2 linked regions of the Homo sapiens genome follow. The protein of the gene in region 2 purifies or fractionates together with the protein of the main gene of each other region. This does not show direct contact. Each region holds a gene or a part of one and is shown on either strand. Other genes may lie near its edges.

Region 1 (3,988 bases), on a different chromosome or scaffold from region 2:
CCTCGTACAATGTTGTTGGTTTTGACACACATCTTGGTGCAAATTTTTAAGATCCTTGGAACACGTGGTTATTTATTCTCTTTCCACACTCACTCTGCATGTGATTTCCTACCTCACCCTCAGAAAGAAAGGAGAAAGGTAAAGTTGGCAAAAGCTACAAAGAAATATTTGTGTACACATTTACTTTTTTTTTTTTTTTTTTAAATGAAACAGTCACTCTGTTACCCAGGCTGGAGTGCAGTGGTGTAATCTCAGCTCACTGCAACCTCTACCTCCTGGGTTCAAGTGATTCCCATGCCTCAGCCTCCCGGGTAGCCGGGATTAAAGGCACGTGCCACCATGCCTGGCTAATTTTTGTATTTTTAGCAGAGACGTGGTTTCATCATGTTGGCCAGGCTGGTCTCGAGCTCCTGGGCTCAAGTAATCCACGCACCTTGGCCTCCCAAAGTGCTGGAATTACAGGTGTGAGGCAGCATGCCGACCTACTTTCATAAATGCAAAGAAAAAGGCCTGAAATAACAAACTGCACTGTTTAATGTATGTGTGTGTTTCACTGGGGGCCCTGGGGGAATAGGAGAAGAGGGTGAGGACTTTAGACCTGAGAATGTACTCACAAAGCTGCTCATGAAATAAAAAGATCAAAGAAAAATTCACATCCTTCACAGATGAATTCAACTAATTATATAGGACAGGAATTAACTAGAAGCATCTTTCCAAAGGCAATCTAACCTCATCTATGATAGATTCTCAGACAATATCAGGAGAGAAAACCCTTCATTATTAGCAAGAAGCAGCCAAACTATATATAAACCAATCTGTTACATGGAAAACATTACACAACCTGCTTAAAAAACTATTTCATTAAAGAATGCTTTAAATGTTTTACGGAGAATAAAAAGAAAAAATCTTTTAGGAAGGTTCACCTGTAGTAAGGGGCAAAAGAAAGTATACTGTCCCAAGTTTGGGGACACAAGGTAAAGGGTTAAACAAAACCAACCAAAAAACAAAAAGAAAACACACAAAAGCTCCCAATTCGACTTTTGTTAGCGGGGGCAAAAAAGGAGAGATGACATATTTCTCTTCAGAAATTTGCCACTACCCACCCCCTTTTTCCTATTCCCATGCCAGGGTACTCGCAAAATTAGAAAGCAGCAAAAAAATGAGATGAATACAGCTTCAGAAAAGATCTAATCAAAACACTGCTAAAGTACTCATGTGCTGAAGATATCAGTTACACACATTCAAACTGATCCTCCCACCAAAAGCTATCACAGTGGTGGGCAAAATAGTGGCTAAGGTGTCTCTGGAGAACTGCTCAGTAGAAAAGTACGCCTCTGTAATAGAGAATATATGATTAGCTCCTATATTTTGGATGAAAGCCCCTCATTAATCCAAATCAAACCCTTCTCTATCAACACACTACAGAACATGACATACAGCGTTTCTGAGGCAATGGGAGGGACAGTGACAGCATTTTTTAACAGAATATAGCAGGTACAAAAAGAAAAGGCATGATACAGCATGGCCTATTTGAAAAATTTTAAAAGTGTCCAGTAGGTTTGGAAATTGGAGAAGCAGTCTTAAGTCCAGGGTCTTGCAACACTAAACAGTCATGAGTCCCCTTCCTGGCTGTGAGCCAAGGAAGACTGGGCAAGGAGCTACGTGATCAGTAAGTGCTCTGAAGTAAGTTAGCTCCAGTGGCAATGTGCAATGTCCCAGGAATGGAGGGGCAACAAAGCAGGAAGAGCAGTGAGGAGACTGACCACTGCAATGCACCAGCTGCAAAGTGAGAAGACATGGAGGGCAAGTGAAAATGGGATCAGACCACAAAGCAGCATTTACTGCAACAACCACATGCTTTCTTGTCTATCTCTTTTCACTTACACATTAGGTAAACCAAACTTCCTTTACATTTTGTGGTATCAGCTAGCTTTTTGGTGTTAATCATAATAATCTCCAAGGCAACAAATAAATCTGGGGCTCTATGAATTCACAACATTTCCCACAATTTAAGAACATTCTCTTTTTAGAGACAAGATAGATACAGGCAAACACAAATAGGAATTAGCATGGGAAAGATGGCCCAAGATAAATCATATGTGGTAATAACACAATTTCAAGAACGATTATGTAAGAAAGAACGTGACTGAAATATGACTAAACCTATAGTGTGTAAAAAACAGAGTATCTAAAAATCTTTAAATTTAAATATTATTTTCATTGCTTTTTTTTTTTTGAGATGGAGTCTCGCTCTGTTGCCCAGGCTGGAATGCAGTGGTGCGATCTCCACTCACTGCAAGCTCCGCCTCCCGAGTTCACGCCATTCTGCTGCCTCAGCCTCCCGAGTAGCTGGGACTACAGGTGCCCACCACCACGCCCGGCTAATTTTTTTTTTGTATTTTTAGTAGAGACGGGGTTTCACCGTTTCACCGTGTTAGCCAGGATGGTCTCGATCTCCTGACCTTGTGATCTGCCCACCTTGGCCTCCCAAAGTGCTGGGATTACAGGCGTGAGCCACTGCGCCCGGCCTTTTTTCACTGCTTTTGAGGCCTGCCTCTTCCTCCTTTCCTGTGTGTGATGGGTTTCTGATTTGCTCTTAAAATCTTGTCATTGGAAATAAGAAAAAGGGATATAAAGATCTTGCGGGGCCTCCAGAGCCACGATGAGAACTTTGGTCTTGATCCTGAAATCGGCGGTACCCAGAGGGGCCACACAGAGTGGGCTGTTGTATTTAGGTTAGTTAAAATGTTAAGTATGGAAGAGATGGACAAGATGGATTCAGAAAAACACACAGGACTTAGATACACAAAGTGAAAAAAAAAAAAAAAGGCAATACAAAGAATTAGATGGCTAAAGTAAGGAAACGTGGGGTGGGTAGATGGGCCCAGGTACACAGAGCCAGCATGAGTTCCTGCTCAAATAAAGCCATTCATTTATCATTAACTCTGTTCTTCCAGTCCTCCAGCTTCAAAAAGAGATGGCCCCTGCTTCCTGCTGAAACTAATGCCCCCCTCCTATAGGTCTCCACTCTTTCTTGTTCCCTCAATGCCCTTGCTCCTAGAAAACAATCTGCCTTCCATTTCAAAATCTGGCTTTACAAATGGACTTTACACTTAAAAATAATCCACCTATGCCCAACCCCCCATCTGAAAGAGAACACTCACAATGATTCTGCTGGACCCTTCTTCAACAGTTTTACCCTTCATATTTGTTTTTCCCAAGGCAGCAGACTATCCCCATAGTCACAACCTTTCACTTTCAGGCTGACTCAGCCTGATTGTCTAGACATTTGTATTTCTCCTAAGTGAATCCTGATGATCTAATCCACTCACAGTAATCCCATGTTCCCAGCCAGTGACTGGTTCAGACAAAAGCATTGTGACCCAATGCTGGCCAAGATGAGAAGTCTACCTGGTGAGGGGTGAGAGTGGCATGGGGTCCCACAGGGGAAATAAACAAACAGTTGTCTTAAAAAGATATGTATTTCCAGCCAATGCACCTATGAAAAAAAAAAAAAAACTATAGAGGAAGAGGCCCTATTACTGCTAGGCACTACTTAATTTGATGAGACACCTAGCTGTAGTCAGCACGGGACCATAAGGGCTAGCAGAGGACAACATGTGGAGGACAGCAGTTTAAAGAGAGAAATGGGGTGGGCACTGTGGCTCACACCTATAATGCCAGCACTTTGAGAGGTCGAGGCAGGAGGATCACTTGAGCCCAGGAGTTCGAGACCGGCCAGGACAACATGGTGAAACCCTGTCTCTACAAAAAAATACAGAAAAATAATAAAGACAGAAATGATCTGAGTCTCTGATGACCTCAGTGAGGCACTGACATCACCCAAATTAGACTCTGCCATCTTGTTTAAGCCAGATGAGTACAGGTTTCATACTATCCCTTCTTTTACTCCAACCAAAGGCATGTGAACAGATTCATCCATCAAACAACAGCTTTTTCTTTTCTTCTTTTTTTTTGAAACAGTCTC
Region 2 (3,988 bases):
TTAACTCCCTAAGTGAAATCAAACCAGAAAGCAAACAGGAACCTTTCTGCCTCTGTGAAGTGAATCGTGTTTCTTTCAGGGGAAGTAGGAGGAAGCGGTACCTTTGTAATGGGGCAGGTGAAGTTGGTCTGACTTTGGGTCACAATTATATCTTCATCCACTCCTTCTGTTCCGTCAGCTTCTCTGTCAGCTTGAAGACCACCTAGAGGAAAATGGAGAGTTGATAAGCCTCTCTGGTCTAACGTCAAAGAAAAGGAAGGAATGGAAGGAAGGGAGGTGAAGAGTTTCTGGGGGAGCATTTGCTGTTGGCCCCCATGTAAGGACTGGATGCATAGAAACTCTTCTGCTTTTCAGAGAACACTACGGGGTACCTCATTCTGACTATTTTTGATAAGGAAACTGAGGCTCAGAGCAGTTAAAAAGAATCTTTTTTAAAGTTATAGAGAAAGTGACCAAGGGTGTGGCTTCAGAGTCAGAGAACCGACCTGGTGATCTCTTTCTTGTCCAGTGGTGAGACGCTGGGCTAGCAAGGTGCCCTTTTTTAAAGCCTCTGCTTTACAGCCTTGTGGCAAAGATTAAAAGAGATGAAGAATGTGGTATGCTTTGCACAGCTCATGGTACAAAGCAATAATCAATAAACAGTCATTACAATTAGGTAGTGCAGGGCTTCTCAAACTTTTTAGTTATAGGTATGAACTCTTTTAAGCTTTTTCTATGTGGGTTATATTTATCAATATTTAACATATTAGACATTAAGATTAAGGAATTTAAAATTCATTAAAAAATAACAATAAGGCCGGTTGCGGTGGCTCACGCCTTTAATCCCAGCACTTTGGGAGGCTGAGGTGGGCGGATCACGAGGTCAAGAGATCGAGACCATCCTGGCCAACATGGTGAAACCCCATCTCTACCAAAACTACAAAAATTAGCTGGGCATGGTGGCATGTGCCTGTAGTCCCAGCTATTTGGGAGGCTAGGGCAGGAGAATCGCTTGAACCCAGAAGTTGGAGGTTGCAGTGGGCCAAGATCCTGCCATTTCACTCCAGTCTGGTGACAGAGCGAGACTCTGTCTCAAAAAAAAAAAAAAAAAAAAACCAAAAAATTAAAAGTAACAGTAATAATCCCACTACGTGTTACCATAAACATTTTAAAAGTTAAAATTATATTTCCAGAACACCCCCCCCCATACACACAGACATACATAATGAGAAGAATGGCATTGTTTTCCATTTTTATAAATATCTTGAATGTCTGGCTTCATAGCAGCCAGTTGGATTTGGATATCTGCGTATGCATTCAATCTGTCACAATATCACATATCCTGTAGTCTCTGGGAAAATTCACTCATGAAAAGAATGAGAGTGAAACAGGCAGATGAGATCATACTATTATTATAAAGACAGTTTTGACCTTATGGACACTCTGAAAGACCCTTGGAGCACCCTAGAGATCCCTGGCCTGCACTTTGAGAACTGCTGAGTGATAGTGACAGGACTGGCTTTGAACAGAGCATGAGCTGCTTCTGAAACTGATGTTCTTTGAGTTACATCCCATTGGCCCCCAACTGAAAAACCAAACCAAACCAAAAACAGATGATAGACAACATTTGAATGGGATGATGGGAGTATCTCACATGAAAGCCATTCTCTCTGAAGAAAAGATACTTGTAATTTTGCACAGAAGTTAAAGATCAATAGCTTTTTTTTTTTTTTTTTTTTTTTGAGATGGAGTCTCGCTCTGTCACCCAGGCTGGAGTGCAATGGCGCGATCTTGGCTCACTGCAACCTCCGCCTCCCAGGTTCAAGTGATTCTCCTGCCTCAGCCTCCTGAGTAGCTGGGAGTATAGGTGCACGACACCATGCCTGGCTAATTTTTGTATTTTTAGTAGAGATGGGGTTTCACCATATTGGCCAGGCTGGTCTTGAACTCCTGACCTCAGGTGATCTGCCCGCCTTGGCCTCCCAGAGTGCTGGGATTACAGGCATGAGCCACGGGGCCCAGCCAAAAGATCAGTAGCTTTCTAAACATGTTGATGGTGTAGTCCTTTCTCCTTCCTTCTCCTTTCCCTTTCCCTTCTCTACTCTTTTCTCCCTTCCCTTCCTTCTTTAATTTTGGCAAAATAATACAGACATAAAAATGGCTTTCCTCAATGTGTGAGAGGAAGCCCTTGTTTCTGGTTCAGATGGTGTGGCATACCTTTCGGTTCCATAGAACTGATGACTGTGGGCCATCACCTAGGCCAGATGAGGTGTTTGTTTGCAAAGGCACTACAGGTTGAGTATCCCTTATCCGAAATGCTTGGGACCAGAAGTGTTTCGGATTTCGGACTTTGAAATATTTGCATAAGCATGATGAAATATCTTGGGGGATGGGACCCAAGACTAAACATGAATTTCATTTATGTTTCATATAAAGCTTACACACATAGCCTGAAGCTAATTTTATGCAGCATTTTTAACACTCATGTGTACTTGTTGCATGAGGCCAGATGTGGAATTTTCTGCTTGTGGCGTCATGTAGGTGCTCAAAAAGTTTTGGATTTTGGAGCATTGTGGGTTTTGGATTTTGGGATTAGGGATGCTCAAGCTGTACTGAGGGGCAGGGAAAGGGCTGCAGAGCTCTTGTTCAAGGTAACCTGGTGAATTAATTGCAACACAGGGATTCTGCCTCCAATTACTTTGTTTTTCTTAGAGAGTCACCTTCTTGGAGTAGACTGGTATATTTGTATGCCAGCTTGCTGTCCCCTAAACCAGCTTTTATTCTTTGAAGAAGGCAGTGAAGATCTCAGGGCTTGGGAATAACCAGTCAGAGCATTTTTAACCACTGGGCATTAAGGTGCAGTGCCTCGGGGCTTCCAGCTTTTCAGAGAGCTAAACAAACGTCTGAGACCTTAAAAACCATTGGTTGGCTTCAAAACAGAATAACAATAGTACTGAAATTACTAAATGTTAAAGGTCTATGCAAATGTGAAGTTAACTTCATTAATTGTTGATCCGGTAATCGAAAATACATAATTTGGAAGTAATATGTAGGGCTGGATTTATTTCTTCATAAACTTCATAAAAATTTCCCAGTATGGTAAGATAATTGCTGAAACTAATAGTCAATTACAAATTAAATCAGTTACTGGTAGCCAACCTATTTCCAAAGCAAAATTATACAAATATTTTTTCAAAATTTTGACAGCAAGGTTGGGTGCGGTGGCTCACGCCTGTAATCCCAGCACTTTGGGAGGCTGAGGTGGGCAGATCACCTGAGGTCAGGAGTTCGAGACCAGCCTAACCAACATGGTGAAACCCCTTCTCTACTAAAAATACAAAAATTAGCTGGGCGTGGTGGTGGGCGCCTATAACCTGAGCTACTCAGGAAGCTGAGGCAGGAGAATTGCTTGAACCTGGGAGGTGGAGATTGCAGTGAGCAGAGATCATGCCATTGCACTCCAGCCTGAGTGACAGAGCAAGACTCCGTCTCAAAAAAAAACAACAAATTGACAGCAATAAAATTATATATATATATATTTTTTATTTTTTAGTTTTTGAGACGGAGTCTTGCCCTTGTCGCCCAGGCTGGAGTGCAATGGCACGATCTTGGCTCATTGCAACCTCTGCCTCCCGGGTTCAAGCAATTCTCCTGCCTCAGCCTCCCAAATAGCTGGGACTACAGGCGTCCACCACCAGGCCCAGCTAATTTTTGTATTTTTAGTGGAGACGTGGTTTCGCCATGTTGGCCACGCTGGTCTCGAACTCCTGACCTTGTGATCCGCCTGCCTCAGCCTCCCAAAGTGCTGGGATTACAGGCGTGAGCCACTGCACCCGTCCTAAAACGATATTTAATAGGGCAGGTACCATATTATAGTATGTTTGCTGTGGGGTGGGGTCTCTGGAAATTATATTGCTCATGGCTATGATGGGTTTTCATGCTTCTCAGGGCCTGTCTTTGGTATTCATAGTGCAAGAGTTAGACTCCTAAGAGAGTCCCTTTATCAATC

What was found. Proteins that work in one complex are often made in the same cells at the same time.
Region 1: the proteins of NSMCE2 (region 2) and WAPL fractionate together in Homo sapiens (co-fractionation; one study listed by BioGRID). This does not show direct contact.

The regions. Positions count from the first base shown.
Region 1 is NC_000010.11:86,438,070-86,442,057, forward strand, and holds part of WAPL (wings apart-like protein homolog), read right to left. Parts: intron 1-3,988. UniProt on the Homo sapiens protein: Regulator of sister chromatid cohesion in mitosis which negatively regulates cohesin association with chromatin. Involved in both sister chromatid cohesion during interphase and sister-chromatid resolution during early stages of mitosis.
Region 2 is NC_000008.11:125,353,433-125,357,420, reverse strand, and holds part of NSMCE2 (E3 SUMO-protein ligase NSE2), read right to left. Parts: intron 203-3,988; coding exon 102-202; intron 1-101. UniProt on the Homo sapiens protein: E3 SUMO-protein ligase component of the SMC5-SMC6 complex, a complex involved in DNA double-strand break repair by homologous recombination. Is not be required for the stability of the complex.